Linked DNA regions of Homo sapiens: region 2 is linked to region 1. A link means that fine-mapping ties the variant in region 1 to the expression of a gene that starts in the linked region. Tissue or cell type: whole blood. Region 1 holds a variant in brackets; the other region holds the start of a gene. All regions are shown on one strand. Distances are from middle to middle.

What was found. PIP is the estimated chance that this variant, and not a neighbour inherited with it, causes the effect.
Region 2: it holds the start of KLHL13, and the variant in region 1 is fine-mapped to the expression of KLHL13 in whole blood (TOPMed, PIP above 0.99). The same link has a PIP of 0.9 or more in blood mononuclear cells.

The regions. Positions count from the first base shown.
Region 1 is chrX:118,206,563-118,217,793 of GRCh38, reverse strand. No RefSeq gene overlaps it. Among named protein-coding and RNA genes, the nearest start is that of KLHL13, 95 kb to the right of the region's middle. RefSeq lists an enhancer at 5,984-6,053. The variant A/G (reference allele first, on the strand shown) is at 4,905.
Region 2 is chrX:118,111,132-118,122,362 of GRCh38, reverse strand. It overlaps KLHL13 (kelch like family member 13), which reads left to right and starts at 5,553. Exons shown (of 8, transcript NM_001168302.2): 1 at 5,553-5,855.

The DNA of each region.
Region 1 (11,231 bases):
TTGTGGAAAAACAGGTAGAGAAAATTGACTTGACTCTAAAGGCGGCAAGTAGAACAAAATATCAAACATATGCACATTATAGAAGCTAGATTAATGTTGGCTGATGGGCCTGCACCATTAGCTTTGGTTGAGGCAGTATCATTGTAGTGGTTAAGAGCATGGAGGAGGCCGGGCATGGTGGCTCATGCCTGTAATCCCAGCACTTTGGGAGGCTGAGTTGGGTGGATCATGAGGTCAGGAGATGGAGACCATCCTGGCCAACATGGTGAAACCCTGTCTCTACTAAAAATACAAAAATTAGCTGGGCGCGATGGCATGTGCCTGTAATCCCAGCTACTCGGTAGGCTGAGGCAGGAGAATCACTTGAACCAGGGAGTCGGTGGTTGCAGTGAGCTGAGATCGTGCCACTGCACTCCAGCCTGGTGACAGAGCGAGACTCCGAAAAAAAGAAAAAACAAAACATGGAGATGGAGGAGGCACATGCCTAGGTTTCAATACCAGCTCTGCTGTGTACTGGCCGTGTGATATGGACAAATTACTTAACCTCTAAGTCTCAGTTTCCTCATCTATAAAATGGGGATACTAATAACATCTACCTGGGGTTATTGTGAGGAGTAAATAAATTACTTTATATAAAGTGCCTGGCACATATGGAGCTCCATGTAAGTGTTAGCTGCCATTATTTTGGAAGCATAGAATTAGTTGAAAGTAATTCTAATCAGATGGGGTAAACATATTGCAAAGGATACATTGGTTTCAAGGGAAATATTACCATTAGGAGAGGCAGAAATGTAAGATAGTATTCACATTCATCTCGTTCAGGCATGTCAGAAAGATCAACAACACTTGTTCCATTATGGATTCTAAAGTAACTCTGTGAAAATATAGAATTCCAACCTTCATAATGAGACTTTAAAGGGGGCTGCGTAGGCGAGGGCAGGGGGAGATGGGGAGGGAGAGTCAGCTGCTGTATGGACTTCTCTGAAGAGAGCCCTTATAGCTGGCCTGTCCCACGAGCAGCCTTTTGATATTCTAGGCAGCTGCCTGACACTGCACTTTGGTGCTCCACAGTGTAATTAACGGGCATGCACACAGCTGCCTTGTCAAACAATTGACCAGACTTGGCAGTGTATGCTACAGAGGCGGGGTGGTAGCAGGGAGCACCTAGAATACATTTACCACCTTGGGCACTGGGCTTTCCCAACAGCTCTGTAATAACACTGCAGCTGCACCCTGAGCACTTCTCAAAACAGTGTTCCTGCTAACTTCTTAGAGGGGACTATCCAAATTCCTCGATTCAGAATGCGTTTCCATTTTCTACCTTACACAACAACAATATCACTAGCTTGACCTCCTCCTTGATGCTATCAGAGTCAACTGTGACTGGCCCATTAGTTTTTTTTGTTTCTCCTCTAAACCACACAAATACTTTTTCATCTCTATTACCATTAGCCAGATAAATCTTGTTCAGGGAAGGAAGTGTAAGAGGAAGTGTGATGTCAGGAAAAAAACACGGGACTGGGAATCAGAAGACTGCATTTTTTGTTATGGCTCATTAGTTTTATGACCTTGAGAAAGTCGTTCGTTCACTCTGGACCTTTGGGTGTTGTGTACAAGTGAGATGGTTAGGTTGGAGAGGAACTTTCTGGGATATTTGTGGCTTTGAGGATTTAATACTCATAAGCCATTGCAGGGGCTTATGATCTTTGGATCTTTGATGTCATGGAGCCCTGTATAAGAATTTCAGAACCGTCCCTACCCTGAAACTTTGCTTGTTGACAAACAACTGACTCTTAATCAGAATAGCATCCCTGTCACTGAAACTTCCAGCCTACCGTGTTTTTCAGCCTTTCTTGAGGGTGCTGAGTAATTTTAACATGGGGTTGTATTTGGAATGCTACAGCGGCTTTTGGTACAAAGCTCCAGAATGACAAGACAGACCTGAGGATCAATTATAAGCCCAGCTTTGCCATTCCATATATAGGGTGTGTGCCCACCCTGTACTTGCTCATCTAGGTTATGTTTTCCACATTTTATCTGTGTCAGACATCAGGCTCCTAATTTGAGAAATATACTGTTGGTTTTAGCTGAAGTCATTTAGCTCATTTCCTTGTTGGAGAAATGTTGTCTTACACATACAGACTTCCTCTAGAGATGGAGGGGATGGCCCTGGCAATCCTACTGTATGCCTTCTGCACGTTTTTATCCATTTGAAATCAGGTTGAGGAGAACACCAGGGACGGCTCAGAGGGAGTTGAGAATGCCTAAAAAGGATATCAACAGCCTCAGGGTGTGTGTGGTCAGAAGGTTGAGACTCAATAGCCCACAGTACTGCTGGTTTTGCCTGAGGAGTGAGCAATATTTATGGATAACAGCCAGTTGTGTGCACCTCTTCCTGACTATGCATTCACTAATGTGTAGTTGGTACCTTGACATGGGCCATGGTGGAAATATTTTCAGTATAGAAATCAGCAAACACTACAAATCAGATATGTTTTAAAAAAATCTCTTTCTTTCTCTTGTTCAATTGGATAATTTCTTTTCATTCATCTTTCAGTTCAATGGCTCTTTCCTCTGTCATCTCCAATCTGCTATTGATCCCTTCGAGTGAGTTTCAAATTTTTGTTATTGTGTTTTCCATTTCTAAATTTTACATTTGGGCTGGGTGTGGTGGCTCACGCCTGTGAGGCACTTTGGGAGGCCAAGGCAGGCGGATCACTTGAGGTCAGGGGTTCGAGACCATCCTGGCCAACATGGTGAAACACCGTCTCTACTAAAAATACGAAAAAATTAGCTGGACCTGGTGGTGCGTGCCTGGGGAGGCTGAGGCAGGAGAATTTCTTGAGGCTGGGAAGTGAAGGTTGCAGTGAGCCACTGTGAGATCGCATTACTGCACTCCAGTCTGGGCAACAGAGGAAGACTCTGTCTCAAAAAGAAACAAATCAATAAATAAATTTTACGTTTACTTCTCTTTTATATCTTCTATTTCTTTTAGAGATTTTCTATGTTTTCAATTATTGCAAGAATGTTTACAATTGCATAGAAGAGCATTTTTTTGTTTTTTGAGACGGAGTCTCACTCTGTCTCCCAGGCTGGAGTGCAGTGGCGCGATCTCGACTCACTGCAAGCTCCGCCTCCTGGGTTCACGCCATTCTCCTGCTTCAGCCTCCCGAGTAGCTGGGTCTATAGGCGCCCGCCACCACGCCTGGCTAATTTTTTTGTATTTTTAGTAGAGATGGGGTTTCACCGTGTTAGCCAGGATGGTCCGGATCTCCTGACCTCGTGATCCGCCCGCCTCAGCCTCCCAAAGTGCTGGGATTACAGGCGTGATCCACTGCGCCTGGCCATAAAGACGGGGTTATTCTCAAGTTACAAATGAGGATACTGAGGCCCAGGGTGGTGTGGCAACTAATTGTTCAGAGGCACAGATAGAAAATGGTAGACCTGCCTGAATGTAATGTGAAAGATTGCATAAGGAGTCTCCTTGCTTATACCAACACTTGGTACAATCAGCCTGTAGTGTGTTGATAAGTGTTCAACAACTGGATCTCCAAGGAAGAAATAAAGGGCCCTCAGCTCCAGGCAAGATGGAGTAAGCATGCTTCCACCCACCATTTCCTACTGGACAGAATTCATGGGGCAGCTATTTGAAGATGCTGAAAAGTAGATAGTAGCAGGCCGTTTGGGGAAGAAAACCTGAATTCAAATATTACCAAATCGATGGTGAGTTTACTCCCACCCCCCAATCTACCCACCCCTCCATCTCCAAGATATTCCCCAGCCTAAACACAACACAGCCTGAAACGTGAAAGTAGGCATCAGCACAGAGAAAGCTCCAAGAAGAACTCAGTCTGAAACCTGAAAGTAGGCATCAGCACAGAGAAAGCTCCAAGAAGAACTCTCTCTCTCTCCCTCCCTCCCTCCCTCCCTCTCTCTCTCTCTCTCTCTTTCTTTTTTGAGACAGGATCCCACTCTGTTGCCCAGGCTGGGGTGCAGATGTGCTATTATGGCTCACTGCAGCCTTGGGCTCAGGTGATCTTCCATCTCAGCCTCCTGGGTAGCTGGGACTACAGGCTCACCCCATCACACCTGGCTAATATTTTAATACTTTTTTGGTAGAAACAGGGTTTTTCCACGTTGCCCAAGCTGGTCTCTAACTCCTAGGCTCCAAGCAATCCTCCCAACTCAGCCTCCCAAAGTTCTGGAACTACAGGTGTGAGCCCTGCACCTGGCCCCCTTCACCTTTCTGTGTAAGCAGTAAAACGAGTACAATGAAAGTGCATACTTCACAAGGTTATTGAGAGGATTAAAGGAGATAATACATTAAAATGCTCAATAATTATTGGCTATTATTAATATTGGGTCAATTTAATTTAGTGATTCCTGTGAGCTAGGCCCTATAGGGCTATGGAATGGATATCTTGTAGTTATAATGCCCATAGATGATTGTGTGTAAATACGCACACACACACACACCCAATCTTGGGGTGTTTTGGGGAACTCACTGACAGCACTACCTTCTCTCCCTGAGACACTGACCTGCCTCCTGGTCTCTGCAGCATTGCAGGGTGAGGAGCCACTGTCTTGATCTACTTTAAAACACTGGACCATGCTTATTGGACTATACTGAAGAGAAATTAATGAGCATGCAGTTAATCTCTGCAGATTGACTGAGGGCTCTGTCACTTTCTGCTTATAGCTTGTAGTCCTCAGTTCTTTTCAAGTTAATAGCTTGTGACTTTTTGGTCACTCTTTCTGTGGGCTGGGCTGACTGCTCACCCGGCTTCTCTGCAGGAGCAGCATGTGCATTGTTTCTGTTGCAAATGGTTCCTGGAGCTAGAATTAAGAGAAGTGGTTTTGCTGATACATTTTTGTGGTTTGTCTAACACCTTCTTTCTATAGCA[A/G]CACATCGCCTCTAGTTTTCCTCTTTGGGTGTCTGTTTGTGTTTTTAATTTCCTTTTTGTAGAGTCTTTTTTGATTAAAAATTTCTCCATGCTCAAAAGATGTTGAAATTCCATTTTAGCGTTTTGATAAGGGGTGGCTATAATATTTGATATTCAAAGCAGCAGCAGCAGCAGCAGCAGCAAAGCTCTTCATGTGATACGATACTGTTTGACATGCCCCAGCTTCTGTTGCCTTTTAAAAGACAGCATGGTGTGGTAAACAGAGCTCTTCACTGGCAGTCAGAAAAACTGATGTCAAGTCCAGTATCTGCTCCTCCCTTCCCTGGATTCATAGGGCAAGTCACATCACGGCTCTGCTGCTGAGTTTCTGTTATTTGAATACATTGAGGCTAGGGGCCACAGCAGCAGAGATGAGCTAAGGCCACAAGTGGAGCATATGGATACCAGCAACTGCAGAGGAAAATCTCAGTGACTGGCAAGAGCACATGATGCAGCCTGGGCCCCTGCTGGGGAAACCGAGGGATTTAAGGAGCTGGTTTCTGGCCAGTCTCCCTTTGCTTTTCCTCCCCCAGGTTGGTGAAAGTGCTAAAAACATGAGTTCACTGTGAAACACGGAGGCTTGAGGCAGATCATTACGGAAGCCTCTTAGCTCCAAAATTTGGGGTTTACCATAGGAGGGACTGGACTAAGGCAGGTGCAGGAATATTGGTGAAGCTGCTGCTGTTATCTTGGGGGCCCCAGGCAGGAGGAACAAAAATCAACTTATTTAATCTTGCAGTTTTCGTTTCCTCATTTCTGAAATGGGGATAATAATACCTCCTCGGCTTGGTGCTCAGTGCAGCTGTGAGGAGCAAATGTGAGAGCGGCTGCGAATGTGGTCCTGGTAGCACTCCCAAGCAGAAACATAAGCCATGTCAAGGTCCCATCTGGGAAAATCTGCTCCTTTCCTGGTCTTCCCCCTCTGGGCATCAGAACTTTAACTGCATTTGCCAGGTGGAGTCCATACAGTTCAGCTAACAGTACTTTAACACAACAAAAAGACTTAGCTAAAAATGACTCAATGCAGGCAACATAACTCTTAGGCTGCAAGCGATCCTCCCAACTCACAACATAACATAATTATCTACAACAAACCACAGATCCTATATTGGCAGGTTTTAATTTTTTTTTTTTTGACACAAGTTCTCGCTCTGTTGCCCAGGCTGGAGTGCAGTGGTGCAAGCTTAGTTCACTGCAACCTCCGCCTCTCAGGCTCAAGTGATCCTCCCACCTCAGCCTCCCAAGTAGCTGGGACTATAGGCATGTGCCACCATGCTTGGCTAAATTTTTTTTCTTTTAATTTTTGTGGAGACTAGGTTTCACTATATTACCCAGGCTGTTTTTGAGCTCCTGGGCTCAAGTGATACTCCCATTTCAGCTTCCCGAAGTGTTGGGATTGCAGGCATGAGCCACTGTGCCCTGCCAAGTTCTAATGTTATTTTCAATTTCCTCTTCAGTAAGGAATTGGGGAAGACCCCTATCTTTTGTGATTAGGAAATTGTTGCTGTTCTGGTGTATTCTGGATTTCTATCTTTTTCTCTTTGTCTAAGTCCTACATGTTCTCTTCTGTGTGTTCCCTGCTGTTTTTGTCTCATGCTAAGCTGCACTGAGATGGGTCTTTTTTTGGTATAAAGACACTCGTTAATTAATACAAGAAATTCACAGTCATTCAGCAAACATTTATTGTGTCGGCCATGTGCCACGCACTATGCTGGAGAGTGGGAATACAGAGATTTTTTTAAAAGTTCTCATCTTTTAGGCCTTTATAGTTTAGCAGAAGAGCCAAACAATTATAGTAGTGAGATAAGTGCTCTGATCATTTCATAGAGGGCCATAGGAGAGTACAACATAGTTGGGTATATTGATGGGGCTGGTCCCAGGGAAGCTGAATCTGAGTTGAGGTCAAAGGAGTAGTTGGAGTTTCCCTGGAGAAGGGGGCTAGGAGAAAGATTTTCTAGGCAAAGGCAGCATTATTTGCCAAGGTATTGGGGCACTGAAGGGCGTAGCATTTACAGGGAGCTTTAATAGCTTGGCTAAGTCAAAAGTAGGGATTAAGGAAGGTGTGGAGTGATGGGAGATGAGACTGAAGGAACAAGAAGGGGCTGGGGCATGAAGAGCCTTGGACATCCTGCTGGAAGAGAGTGGGAAACTAGTGGAGAGTTTTAAATAGGGAATCAACATGATCAGGTTTGTGTTTTTGAGAATAAGGTATTAAAAGAGGACTCAAGATGCTCAAGCACAATGCATCGAACACAGTCAGGAAATGTGACAGAAACCCACAGTTTCTATCCAGGAGATGGCAAGATGATTGGCTATAAGGCAGTAGCAGTGGGGATGGAGATCCAAACTTGTTCCTGTTGTCTTGGTCCAAGTAGTAACTGGGGTCTTACAGCAATATTGGCTAAGTGCTGCAGTGGTCGGGGCTTATAAGAATGGAGAAAAGGCCCTGGATTTGTCTTAAAGGAAGTCACTGGTTCCAGGGTGAAGGATGTGGATAGCAGGGAGTGATGATGGCAGTGCTTTCATATGCAGAGTCCAGGAGAGATTCAGCAAGGTACAGTATGTTGAGGTCAAGTCCATGATAGTTAATTTTTTGTGTTGTTTTTATTGTATCAAAGAGCACAAAATGGTGTTTGTGTTTTATTTGGCCTATACAACATTCCAAACATTTTGAGTCAACAATGAAAAACCAGGAGATTTTACAATTTACAAACTCACATTTCTGGTTTCTCTTGAAAAATCCAGACGCTCTGGCAACACTAGGCCTGCATTAGTTCATGTGGGTCAGCTGGAGCGGAGTAGCTACTGCACCCTTTAGATGGACTGTTTGCTCTCTAATCAACCACACACCCACCCCTCACACCGTGTATGCAGATGCACTCACACTCTGCCTGCTTAGCCAGGGTGGGCTTTGAGTTTGTAATCCCCAGGTTATCTCAGGCCTAGCTATTTTTTTTTTTTTGAGACGGAGTCTCGCTCTGTTGCCCAGGCTGGAGTGCAGTGGCGCGATCTCAGCTCACTGCAAGCTCCGCCTCCCGGGTTCATGCCATTCTCCTGCCTCAGCCTCCCGAGTAGCTGGGACTACAGGTGCCCGCCACCACACCTGGCTAATTTTTTTGTGTTTTTAGTAGAGACAGAGTTTCACCGTGTTAGCCAGGATGGTCTCCATCTCCTGACCTCGTGATCCACCCGTCTCGGCCTCCCAAAGTGCTGGGATTACAGGCCTGAGCCACCGCCCCCGGCCTCTCAGGCCTAACTTTAAAGGTGACTTGCAGCAGCCAGATTGCTCATACAGGATGGTCTTTATCATTCCAGTGAGCAGATTAAGCCATCAGCTGAGAATAAAGGACATGGAGAACAGATTGGATTACAGAAGTCATGACTGCACTTGTAAGTGTTGTCTTGATAACAAACATAGTAGGCTTAAAAAATCTTTAAGTATGAAACTTTCTCAAAGTTCTTTTACAAAATATTTCTTATTGTTCTGTATTGTGATTTCTTATTGTTCTGTATAGTCTGTTTACATGAATGTCTTTCTCACTCATCTGGTGAACCTCTTATGATCAGGAACTGTACCTTTTCCTTGGCTGTGGGTCTGATATAATATAAAGATATACATACATATATACATGTTGATATATGTGTATATATGTTGATATATATATATGTTGAAATATACATCTATATAATCAGACCCTTGAAAGGGGTTGATATCATAGAAGGATACACACACACATATATATATACACACTCACATATATATGTTGATATCTATCTATATATGTTGATATTGTATATATCTATTATATCAGACCCTTTCGACACACACTCACACACACACATATATATGTGTGTTGTGTGTGTATGTGTGTGTATATATATATACACACACACATATATATATATATATATATATATATACACACACACACACATGCACACATATATATATATGGAAAGGATAAAAGTGATGAAGGGGAGAATAAGACTGTCCCTTAGGGTTCTTGTCAGGAGACCAGATGAGACAATGTATGACCAAATGCTTAACACAGAGCCTAGCACGTAATAGACACCCAAATCGATTTTTCTTCCTGCATATGAAAGAGCTTAAAGAGCACATACTCAATAAAAGCTGGTTGCCTTTGTTTCCTCTTCCCCTTCTCTGATGTCAACATTCCTGGGAGATTCACCTTTGACCATTCTAGCAGGGCTTTTACATGCAGTGTCTCTCACTCAGCGGGCACTCGTTTATATATTCAATCCATTGATTACAATGGTAGATTACATACCTACTATGTATACAGTCTCATACTAGATGCTGCAGGGATGCTAGAGGTAAGACCCACTTCTTCTCTCTTGTTCTTTGCCTGGTAGGGGGATTAGACACATATTCAAGGAACTCTATATATGAAAAACAAACTATTCGATGTGCCACAAAAGAGGACAGGCAAAATGCACCTGCCATCCAGAGCAGCGTGGAACCCCATGAGGTAGGGGGAATCAGGAAAGGCTTCCTGCGGGAAGTGATACCAAAGACAGCATGGGAAAGGGTAGGATTTCAGCATGAGGAGGTGGAGTGGCTGTGGAGGCAGTTTTCTGCCTACATGCAAAGTTTTCCTTGGAATTATGCCTAGTTGTCAAAGGTCTTTTAAAAATCTAAATAAAGTAGACACATTGTTTCTTCTCTTGCCAACAGGTCTCTTTACCCTCTTAGACAACTCTATAGATGAATGATGCAAAAGCAAACCAAAACCTCAAAGTGAGACACTTAACTAGGTCATACCACCAGACTTACTTGAAATATCAAACTGGTATTATTTCTTTGCTTATACCTGAACACTCATTGGCAAATATTTACTGAGTATCTATTATATGTGAGCACTGGCACAGTTACAAGATACTGTGGCATATAAAAATGAATACAATATAGGCCATGGCCTCAAAGAGCCTTGACTCTATTGAGACAGATATGAAAATCATGTAATGTGGTAAGTAGTCTAGTGGTAAGTAAGTAGTCTAGTAGTATGGATCTGATCCAAGTGCTATGAATGTGCAGAGGAAGGCACAATTAACTATATCTGTAGAGAGGTTGAAGGAAGGTGTCACAAAGGAGGTGACATTTTTAGTGGGCCTAGAAGAATAAGTTGAATTTATCAAGGCAGAGAAGGGGGTAAGAGAATGAATTAATATTAATCAGAGCCAGGAACTTCAGGCTTAACCCTCAGTGAAACCTTGTGATCTAGCTATGATTATTTCCATTTTGCAGATGGGGAAATTGAGGCTCAGAGAGACCAAATGAATCATCTAAAGTCACATAGCTAGTCAATGTCAGAGTTAGGCTTTGAACTCAGGCTTCCCTGTCTCCACTATATCAAGCTGCCTTCATGGGGAAGAAGCAGGGGGCAGTAAGGATATGGAAAGACATTCTAGGCAAAAGCAAACTTTGCTGGAGATGAACAGGGTTTGTGTCAGCAGGGTCTCACTTTAGCTATGACCATAACTGCCTGACTTTGGAGCGCTTTACAGATGATTATCTCCTTTTTTGGACCTGCTTTTGAAGTTAGAGTTGTTCAATGCCTGCTTATATTGACTATAACATGCAGTTCAGCAAGCATTTATTGACTGAATTGGCTGCAACAAATGGGATTTAGACTGTTTGACCATCTTCCAAATCATTTGTACAGTGATAGATTGGAACAATTCTCAGAAAGTTTACTTTAGCATTTCAGTTAGCCAAAGTCACCAGATTGATAATGCTCTTTCCTGGACCTTACAGACAGAGACACACGGCCTGAAAGTAAAGGCTGAAGGAACTTATTTTTCAAGAGGTAGCTCTCTTCAAAGTACAAAATGTTATGTATTTAGGAACCACTTTAAATCCTTTCCTGAACAAAAGAAAGTTTAAATACACAGATAGATAGGCATATAGGTAGATAAAGTGGTAGAAAAACATATATAGTCATGCATTGCTTAATGGTGGGGCTATATTCTGAGAAATGCGTCATCAGATGATTCCTCTGTTGTACAAACCTCACAGAGTGTCCTTACACAAGCCTAGATGGAATAGCCTACTACACACCTCGGCCATATGTATAGCCTATTATTCCTAGGCTACAAACCTGTACAGCAAATTGCCGTACTGAATATTTTTAGCAAATATAACACAATGCTAAATACTCAAAACATATGTAAACATAAAAAAGGTAATGTGTGACCCTATGACGTTAGGATGGCTGTGATATCACTAGACAACAGGAATTTTTCAGTAATTTCCCATTATTATGAGAC
Region 2 (11,231 bases), 95 kb after region 1:
GGAATGGCCGGATCATATGGTAGGTGTATGTTTAACTTTTTAAAAGACTGCCAAATTATTTTCGAAAATGAGTGTACCATTTTTCATTCACAGTAGCAGCATATCAGAGTTGTAGTTCCTTGCAAAAACTTACTATAATTATTCCTTTTAGTGCTAGGTATTCTAGTACATTGTAGTGTTATCTCATTGTGGCTTTGATTTGCATTTCCCTAATGACTAATGATGTTGATAATCTTTTCATGTGCTTGTTTGCCATGCTTCTTTGATGTAACTTCTTTGGTGGTGTCTGTTCAAATAGTTTACCTTTTTTTTTTAATTTGTTGTTCATATTCTTGTTATTGAGATTTGAAGGTTCTTTATTCTGTATGCAAGTTTTTTAATATTAGATATGATTTTTGCATATTTTCTACCGGTCTGTAGTTTCTTTTTTCATTCTGTCAACAGTGTCTTTTATAGAAGAGTTGTTTCTTTTCAATTTTGATCAAGTTCAACTTCTTAATTTGTCTTTTTGTGGACCATGCTTTTCGTGTCATATCTAAAAAATCTTGGCTTAACCCAAGGTCACAAAGGTTTTTGCCAAAGTTCTGGAAATTTTCTAGCTCCAGATTTTACATTTAGGTCTATGATGCATTTTGAATTAATTTTTGTAGATGGTATTAGGTATGGATCTTAGTTCACATGGATGTCCAGTTGTTCCAGCACCATTGTTGAAAAAAGCTACCCTTTCTCCACTGAATTGCCTTTAAATTTTTTAAATGGACAAATAATAATTGTGCATATCTGTGGGATACAATGTGAGGTTTGCGTCTATGTATACATTATAGAAAGATTTAATCAAGATAAATAACGTATCCATCACCTCACCAACTTATCTTTTTTTTGTGGTGAGAATTCTAAAAATCTATTTTAGCAGTTTTGAAATATACACTATTAGCTGCGGTCACCATGCTGTGCAATAGGTCACTAAAATTTATTCTCCAGTCTAACTGAAACTTTGGACCCTTTGATCAACATCCTCACTTTCCCCATGCTTCCTCCTCCTTCCCCTGCCTCTGATAACCATTTTTCTACTTTCTGTTTCTATGAGATTGACTTTTTTAGATTCCACATATAAGTGAGATCATACAGTATTGTCTATGTCTGGCTTATTTCACTTAGCATAATTTCCTCCAATTCTTTCCATGTTGTCATGGATGCAAATGACAGAATTTCTTTTTTAAGGTTGTATAGTATTTCATTGTGTATATGTACTACATTTTCTTTATCCATTCATTCATTGATGGATTCTTAGATTGCTTCCACGTTTTGACTACTATGAATAATGCTGAAATAAACACTGGAGTGCAGATATCTCTTTAACATACTGATTTCAATTCCTTTGAATATATACCCAGAGAGGGGAAAGGAATCTGAGCAGGCATTTCTCAAAAGAAGAGATACAAATCCCCAACAAATATATTAAAAAATGTTGAAAATCTCTAATCATCAGGGGAAATGCAAATTAAAACCACAGTGAAATATCACCTCACAGCTGTTAGAATGGCTATTGTCAAAAGGATGAATAACAGGTATTGACGTGGATGTGGAGACTGTTGGTGGCAATATAAACTGGTGCTCTCACTATGGAAAGAAGTATGGAGGTTCCTCAAAAAGCTGAATTGCTTTTGAATATTTGTTGAAAATAACTTGCCCATATACGTTGTGGGTCTGTTTATGGACTCTATTCTGTTTCATTGATCAATACCACACTGTCTTGAATATTGTAGCTTTACAGTAAAAATTGAAATCAGGTAGTATTATCCCCCTAATGCTCTTTGTAAAAGTTGTTTTGGCTATTTTATTCAATTTCCATATGAACTTTAGAATCAGCTTGTCAATTTCTACAGAAAAAGCCAGCTAGGACTTTGATCGGGGTTGTGCTGTAACTATAAATCAATTAGGAGTGAATTGACATCTTAATGATATCAATTCTTCTGCCCTATGAATACAGTATATTTCTACATTTATTTAAGCCTAAAGTTTTCAGGACAGGTCTTACACATCTTTAATCAGATTTATCTCTAACTTCTAAAGCAAGACCCTTCTGTGTATGCTACCCAAAGCCCTGTGAGGGTTTTTTTTTTTATAATAGATTCCATTCAATAATAGGCTCCATTCAATAATTGATGAGATGAGTGTTTTGAGGAAATGCAAATTTACCAGAGAGACAAAATGTATCCTAAATAGTTTTCAATTTGTTTTTTAGTCAGAATTAATGCAGTTGAAATCTTTTAGTTTCACATTAGGCACACAGCAAGCTTGCAAATGCTTTTAGACCGATTAGGGATCAGCTACCAGCTCTGTGTACTTTGGTGTGTGTGTGTGTGTGTGTGTGTGTGTGTGTATGTATGTTATGTGTGTGCCCACATCTGCCTGTATGGTCTCTTAGTTAATTTTTATAATTGTATAATTAATTGGTGCTGTCAAATCTTTGGGGCATGGTAGGGAGAATTCTAAGATGGTCCTAAGATTCTTGTCTTCTGTTATACATTCTCCACTTAGGTATGGTTGGGACCTGTGAATATGCTGGGCTATCACTCTTGTGATTAGGTTACATTATGTGGCAAAGGTGAAGAGATTTTGCAGATGTAATCAAGGCACACAGTTAATTTTTGAGTTAATCAAAGGGGTGATAATCTTGGGTGGGCCTGACTTAATCTGGTAAAAGACCTTAAAAGAGGCACTGGACCCCTCCTGAGGAGAAAGAAGTTTTTCTGTTGGCCTTGGCTAAGTAGAACAACCATGTTGTCAACTGCTAATGGAGAGGGGCTGCCTCTAGATCCAGTAAATGCTACGGGTCTTAATTCTGTAACTGCAAGGAACTGAATTTGGCCAACAATCTGAATGAGTTTGGAAGAAGATTCTGAGTTGCACATGAGAACACAGCCCAGCCAAAAACTTGATTGCAGCCTTGTGAGACCCTGAGCAGTGCTCCAAGCTAAACCATACCTGGACTCCTGACACGTGGAAACAGATAATTAATGTGTGTGTTTTTAGCAATGAACAATAACTAAGTCAGCGGATACTCTAGCTGGCATTTGAAATGCTTCCCATTATGTTCGTTTGCTAGACCTGCCATAACAAAGTATAACACCATAGACTGGGTAACTTAAACAACAGAAATTTATTTTCTTGTAATTCTGGAAGATCAAGGTGTAGGTAAGTTTGGTTTCTTCTGAAGCCCCATCTTGTCTTGCAAGTGGTTGCCTTCTCACTGCATCCTCACATGGTCCTTCCTCTATGTGCATATATGTCTAAGTCCTAAACTCTTCTTAAAAGGACACCAGTCATATTGGATTCGGGCCCATCTTAGAGACATTACTTTAACTGAATTACCTCTTTAAAGACCTTTTCTCCAAATGCAACATACTCTCCCATGTGTTATCTTATTTGAAACCCAAAACAATGCTGTGGGGCATATCAGACCAGTATTATTTTGCTCCCCACTGGAAATTTGGGAAAACACTCTCAGAGCACTAACTTAATGTCACATAGCACATAAATTGTCTTCTGACTCTGAGTCTAGTGCTCTATCCAGTAGATTAAGTATTCAGATAAAGCATCCGAACCCAAACAGCAATGGACTTCTATTGGATAAGCATATTTGTAATATCTTATTGCCAGTTCTTTTTCTTTTTTCTTTTTTTTTAAACTGAGAATCTGTGCAAGCTACTGGCAGTTCAAATGCAGATCCTGCAGTTGCCCCCATCTCAACACCCTTGCTATGAGGGTTTTCTCTTTGTGTAGATAAGGGCTGCTTGGCCCACACTGGATTATCCCATTTTTACTGGCATTTCTGTGGGAGAAACTTATTATAAAGTAACCCCACTTGAACCTTTTTATGGCAGGACAAAGCAGTGACTCGAGTGTACACCAGCTCAGTTTGTACTTATTTTTTTTTTAACCTGTGTGCCAGGTTTTTGATACATGCTAAAAGTGATTGTTTGGAATATATCACCTCAGTGAGATTGTAAACTTCTGTACAAGGTGCTTTCTACCCAATAAGCATTTAGTGTGTAAGGTAGGTATACAATAATTATTGAATAAGCATAGTGGAGAAGCCAGTGGAAGCATTCCTGTTAACAAAGGGGAATTGGGTTCAATACACTTGCACGTAAAAGGTAATAATGCAAATTCTATGTATATTTGGAGTTCTTTGATTATTTGGTAAAGTCCAACAATGTGGTATTATCTTTAGTTCTAGCAAGTTTTTGAGTAGCTGATTATTCTCAAATTTACCTAAAACCTACTACTAGAATTTCAGTGTATGTAAGTTGAAATACAAAGTCAGCAATGTTGAAGATCTCAGATCCCAGAGGGAGAAATCCTAGAAAACATAAAGATTCCACACTCACCGCATCACTTCCTTAAGAAGAAGAAGAAGAAAAAAACAGCCAAAGAAAAAAAATCACAATAGTGATTAAACTGGTTGCTAAGAGCAAACTCCCTTTATTTTCCCAAGGAGGAGTCTGGAATTATAAGTAGAAAGGGCAAAGGAATAGGTGTAAGAAGGTGGCCCCAGGCTGTAACCGTCAAGAAGGCAAAGAATGAATAGAAGACAAGCAAGGGGAAAAACAGGCTTGACTGGGGTTTTTTTTGGGGGCTAGGCTGATAGAGCAGAATCAAGATTCTGACTTAGAAGAGCAGTCCCACCAGAGTTTGGAAGCAGTTTGCATAGTGGTTAAGAGCCTGGGTACCAGAATCACACCGCTTGGGATCCTGAGTCCCGCTCTGCCACTTACTATTTATGTAACCTCTGGCAACTTGGTTAACCTATACACCTCAGTTTTGTCACTTGTAAAATGGAGACAATAGTGTGTAACTTGTAGAGTAGCTGTGAATTAGGTAAGTTGATGCTTCAGTGCTTGGTTCATAGCAGACGCTCAGTAAAATGTTAAACTGTTATTTGTAGTTTTTATCCTTCCTCTTTCTTAATGTTGTGTACTGCAGCAGGGAGGGGGAGGGATGAAGCGCTTATCCCACTAGAAGAGTGATATTTGTGTGAGAGCCTGGGTCAGGCTTATTTTGAGACGTGGGCCCCACTGAGGTGAGGTGGCACCGCTTCCAGGGCACACCCTTTGCTCGGGCCCCGCCGTGACTATGAGGAGGCCGAGGCCACGGCTGGCAGAATGCACGGGTGGACCTCCTTGGAGTGGCTAACCCGGGGCGGCTGCACTGTTGTCCCTGGATACTTGACACTTTTCACTTTTTCTGCCTCCCGGCACTAGAATCCATGTGGGCTCACACCAGAGCCTCCCGGTTTCCGAGGCGTGAGGGCCACTTAGCGGTCATTCAGCTTCAGGGTCCGGCCCTGTCACGCTTTCGCTACAGCCTGGGAGTTCCGTTCGGACCCCACACACCGTCCTAGCCCCGGCTCCCCGCCACCCTGCCTCCCGCGCAGGCGCCGCCGGGGCCACCCCCGCCGCCATGTTTCCCCCGCCCGCGCGCTCCCCCCCCCACTGCCCCCTCCCTCCCCAACTGGGTTCCCGCCCCCCTCCCTCAGCAGCCCCCCCACACCCTGGTGAGGTCAGGCGGAGGCTCTGCCGCTGCGGCCGCAGTAGCTCAGCTCCTATTCCTGGGAAGCCTGGAACGGGGACTTTTGAAAATAACTGCAGCGGCATTCGGGTTAGGGTCCGTGCTCTCCGCCTGCGCCAGGACAGGGTGAAGTGGTCGGGGCGAGCAGAGGGTGCGAAGGTGCGGGTGCTGGTGCCTCGCAGCAGGAGGGAGCCCCGGCTGCGCCGCGCGACTCCCTCTTTGGCCCTCGGAGCGCAGCACCCGGCGGACAAGCGGCGGGACGCCAGGACGCGGCGAGCAAGGTGAGGCAGGGTCCTGAAGTCACAGGGGCTCCAGCAGCCGCTTCCCTGCCTTCGGACCCGGCGCTGCGCGGTGCGCGGCGAGGAGTTGCGATCTGTACCAGGGGCAGAGGAGCAGAGGAGCAGGGAAACAGCTTCATTTTGCCCGCCGCCCCCTCTTTTTCTCCCGCGTGCTGGTGCGCGCCCTCATCCTTACACCTTCGCATCCCTTTCTGCCGGTCCCTCTGGCTCCGTCGGACGCCTGGGTTCTTCTAGGACCCCAGAACCCGGCTTTCCTGTGCTTCTTTGTCATCTCTCCAAGATCTTCTCCTCTGGGCCTCGCTGTTGCTGCCCTGACGGTCTGGGGTCCCGCTGCCCGCCCCGGCCCTACTGTCTCTTGCCCTCTAACAGTTTCTGCTTTGTGCCTCCTAATCCATCTCTCCTTCAGAATCTTCTAACTTAGGAGGCTCCTCTGCTGGCTCCCAAGTCAGGAGCACACTCCTCTTCTTCCTCGAAGCTTTTAACTTAGCTCTGAATGTCTTCAGCTCTGAATATTTTGACTTTTTTGTTTGTTTGTTTGTTTAATTACAGTTGACTAATGATTTTCTTGGAGGCTTATAGTCTAGGCTACAGTTTACTGAAAGTGATGAGATCATTCCTTCACTAAATAGCCTTAGTAAATATCAACTAGGGAACTTTAAAGTTTCTTTCTAGGTTTCATTAACTTAGTCCAAGAACAATAGCCACTTAAAATGTATGTATATATGTTGGTACGCAATCTTCGTACATGGTCCTAAATCTGATTCTTCCCTGGCTGCTGAGCAGGCCTGAGAGAGAGGATTGGTGGGAATTGTGATGCCTGGCTCCATTTCTCTAATTGTAAACTAGGATGTTAATCGTTTTAATGTAGTCAGAGGACTTTAGTGGTTTGGGATAAAGTCGCTCAAGTTAGCATAGGCTGGTAACTAAGCACATTGAATGGAGACTAAGAGACGCTGGGATTTAAAACTGTCTCTGGAGGGCACCTGCTTTCTTTTTTTTGAAGCCACAGTTTCTTAACAGTAGATTTCATGTTTGTATAAACCCTCTAAAAGCAGCATATTTTAAAACCACGTAGTTACAAAAAAGACTACTCACTCTTAGCGATATCGCTTTCTCCCCATGTAGTTGTGGTGTTAGCTCCCATACTGAGGTTCATTTGCTCACTTTCATACTGCAATTAGTGTGTGAAGAAAGCTGAATGGAGAAGCACAAAGTGGAGGCAAATACCAGTGAACAAGCACATGCTGACATACGCAGCTGTGTTTTTGGAAATAGACTGTATCTAGTGTTCAAATTTAAAAACTGAGAAAAATGAAATAATTCAGCATTTATGACATCATTTTACATCTAAAAATATTAGCTCCCTTAACTGCAAGTTCTTATTAATATCCTCATACTTAACGGTAAAAGAGTTGTTTGCCTGATGTATGACCAAGTGTTGCCATTGACACAGTGTGCACTAATTGGCAGCAATCTCAGAAGAAACCAGGTTGTGAATGAAGATAATGGCTAAATTTCACTGTCCTGGTAGCACGTCTTATGGCAGTGAGATGAGAGTAGTTTCTGCTGCAACATCAAATGATGTATTTAAAAAACAGATAAATAAGAGCTTCAATTATTAAAAAGCCCAAGGTTTTCAATCTGCCATTTTTATAAGCACACTTCAAAAAGTGTAGTGTGATTATATAAGGCTCAGTTGATGTTCTGAAGAAAGTAGTTTTCACAAGAAAAGTAAGGCCTATTGCTTATCAATTTAGTTAGATAACTTGCAGATGATTTGTAGTTTCCCAATTGATTTGGTAAATTCCTGAGTTTACTTGAGGTTTATTAAAAAATGGAATGTAGTAGGGAAAGGGTACTTATTCTAATAGGCCCACTTTCTAAGTCTGTAATTTTCTTAGCAAACTATTCTCAAAATACATAAAAACTTACAACTTTTTCAAGGAAAAGAGTTTATACTATTTTCTTACTTTTTTCTTTTCATGCTTATTATTGATACAAAATCTAAGCTAAGATTGCTGCTAATGTGATTGCATAGTAAGACTATTTATATTTGCCAGGAAAAGAATAAAGGTGGATGAGTTAGCCATAAGCATTTTGCTCTGAATCTTCAATATGACTCAATATGTGTTTGATAGTCCATCTGGTACACCTAGAGGTTAGCAGACTGGATATTTCTGATATTACTAAATGTAACTGCACTTACTTATTGGATTATCTTCTTTCTCATTTTATGTACATTTCAAATTATGCTTCTTCATGTAATTTGACTTGCAGTAGTGAAATGAGACTGACCAATTTTCAAATTGTTTGATTTTTATTGATGTTTGATAAACCACTAAAACCTCTTGAAAATATTTTTTTCTTAAATCCACTGATTGAAACCGATGTATTTTTATTGCTATGAAATAATACAACAAATTTCCAGGAATTATTTCAGAAAATGTGGAAAGACTGTAGAGAAATGAATAGCCCTAGAGAAAATATCTCAAAATTATAAAAATGGCTTTCTCAAGTTACTGATATTCATAACAATCAGGTTTTTATGTATCATTCATTCATTTACTAATTCATTTTACAAAATCTACTGGGTACTTGTGTGCCAAGGCCCTGTGTTAGGCACAATGATAAACCTTATAAGGCATGATCTTTGCTCTTGTGGAGTATCACAGTGCTTATATTCTACCAGAGAATACAGACAATAAACGAGCAAACAAATGAAGAAGATCCTTATAGACTGTAGTAAGAGCAATGAAAATAAGTAGGGGAATATGATACAGATAGCTAGGAAGGGCCTACTTTAGTGTGGGAAGTCAGAAAAGGCCTTTCAGAGAAGATGATTGAGCAGAGACCTGAAAGAGAAGAGAGAATAGGCCTACCTTGTCAGGATCTGGGAGAACATTCCCGAGATAACATTCTTGCAGAGAGAAGAGTAAGAGCCAAGGCCTTGAGGGGGGAAAAAGAGACTTGGCGTTTTTGAAGAGCAGAAAGCAAGCCAGCATGGCGGATTAAAGAAGATGTTACAGAGCCTAGAAGCAGCTCAATAACCGATAAATAGGACTTGGAGGTCCTGAGAAAGAATTTGGGTTTGATTCTCAGAACAATAGGAAGCCACTGAAGAGTCTTTCCTGGGGAAGGTCATTGGCTTAAAAAAATTATCCAGGGAAATTTAAAAAAAAATGTTTTGCAGAGGATAAATAGAATGTCTACTCATTCAGTCATTTATATTAATACCTGAGAATAAAAAAAACTCTATGATCAGTATGCTAAATAATCATGTAATTCGGTTCCTCTACTCTGTTTAGGTAAGGGGATGGGGGAATGGGAACCCTGAGGTGAGTATGTTAAAAGGCAGTTTACTTTCCACTGTCACATTGTGACTTGTGCTACAAGGTAAGTTGTCACCAACTTTATTAAAAATCAGATCATTGTTCAACTTAAGAATTTATTTTTCAAAGAATGATATCTTATTTTCTCATGGAAATATGTTTCCTTTGGAAGGTTGGAAATTTTATTTTGTATAAAGGAATAACCTAGGTTTTAGAAAGGGCCTTTGGAATTTTAAGAAGGGCTTATCATTTTCTTTTACCTGTTGCCTCTCCAACATTTTCAAATGGCCATACCTTTATTCCTTGAGAGATTAGGGTTACTGTGTTTCCTGAGGCTTAAATGAATTTATTGCCCTAAGCCCTTCCTTGAAAGCAATCCAGCTTTGAGGTCTAGTTGGTCCCAAATAGGAATGCAGATGATTATTGACATTCCATAGGAGTAAATCCTAATATTGTGGGGGAATAACCTGCAAAATAACCTTCATCAGTGCCTGCAGGGTCAACTTGATTTGATCCCAGCCTACTTTCCCATATGTCCTTATTATTCCCTTTCACAAATCTCTATTGGTTTAAACTGATTTTCCCCAGTTTGGAACTTTTGTGCTTAGCATTATTCCTGGCATAGAGTACGTGCACAGTGGGTGCTTGTCAAATGGATGCCATGCCTTTCTTTTTTGTCATTTCAAATTCCAGGTCCTATTACACTATTCCCCATTGAACTAGATCTCCCCCTCTGAAGGTGAACAGCAGTCACACACTTGCCCTGTTGTGTCATAATTATGCTTATTTGATGCCTGGCCATCTCCCCACTTGCCTCTGGCTTCATGAAGGCGACCTAGACCTCATCCGGTTTGCTCATTGTTGTATTCTGAGCACCCAGCACATGGTATGCACTTTATAAATAGTTATTGAATAATGAATAAATACTGTCTTGTGATGTTTCTCCTATTAATTTTTTGATGTTAGATCATTTAATACTGTTTTACTTTTCACGTGTTTGGTGTTCCGAAGTGGTTTCTGAGAGAGGTTGTAGAGCATACTTGTTAAGAGCTCAAGCTCTGGAGCTAGGCCACCTAGGTTTCAATTCCAGCTAGGAGACTTAATAGTTGTGAGACACTGGGTGAGTCAGTAAACCTCCCTGTACCTCAGTTATCTCATATGTAAAAAAGGGGTAATAGAACTTGCCTCTTATGGTACTTGCAAAGATTACATGAATTAGCTAGGCCCACTTTTTCTTTTCTCTTTTTCTTTTTCTTTTTTTTAGACGGAGTCTCGCTCTCTCACTCTATCGTTCAGGCTGGAGTGCAGTGGCATGATCCCGGCTCACTGCAACCTCCGCCTCCTGGGTTCAAGCGGTTCTCCTACCTCAGCCTCCCGAGTAGCTGGGACTACAGGTGCGTGCCACCACGCCAGGCTAGTTTTTTGTATTTTTAGTAGAGACAGGGTTTCACCATGTTAGCCAGGATGGTCTCGATCTTCTGACCTCGTGATCCACCTGCCTCGGCCTCCCAAAGTGTTGGGATTACAGGCGTGAGCCACTGCTCCCGGCCTAACTTTTTATTTTTAGTGGAGACAGGGTTTCACCATGTTGGCGAGGCTGGTTTCAAACTCTTGACCTCAGGTGATCCACCCACCTCGGGCTCCCAAAGTGCTGGGATTGCAGGCATGAACCACCTCCCCCGGCCTAGGCCCACAATTTGTTTGCAATTTTTAAATTTCTAAAGCTCTGAAAACTGAAAAAGATTTTATTTGGTAACTTAGATGCCAAAACTCATGTGGTGGCAAAACCTGACTTAAACTGACATAGGGTATTTATAGTCTTTATTCTACTTAATGTTGATCTTTATTTTGTTTTGCTATAGAATTACTAATATGTTTATGGGGTTGCACCATAGACCCTAATGGTGTATTACATAACATATGGTATATAAAGTATATTTCCTGTCTAAAGGTCTGGACATTTCTAAATTCAGAAACACATCTGGCACCAAGATTTTTCGATGAGATTGTACACCTTGCAGTAAACTGC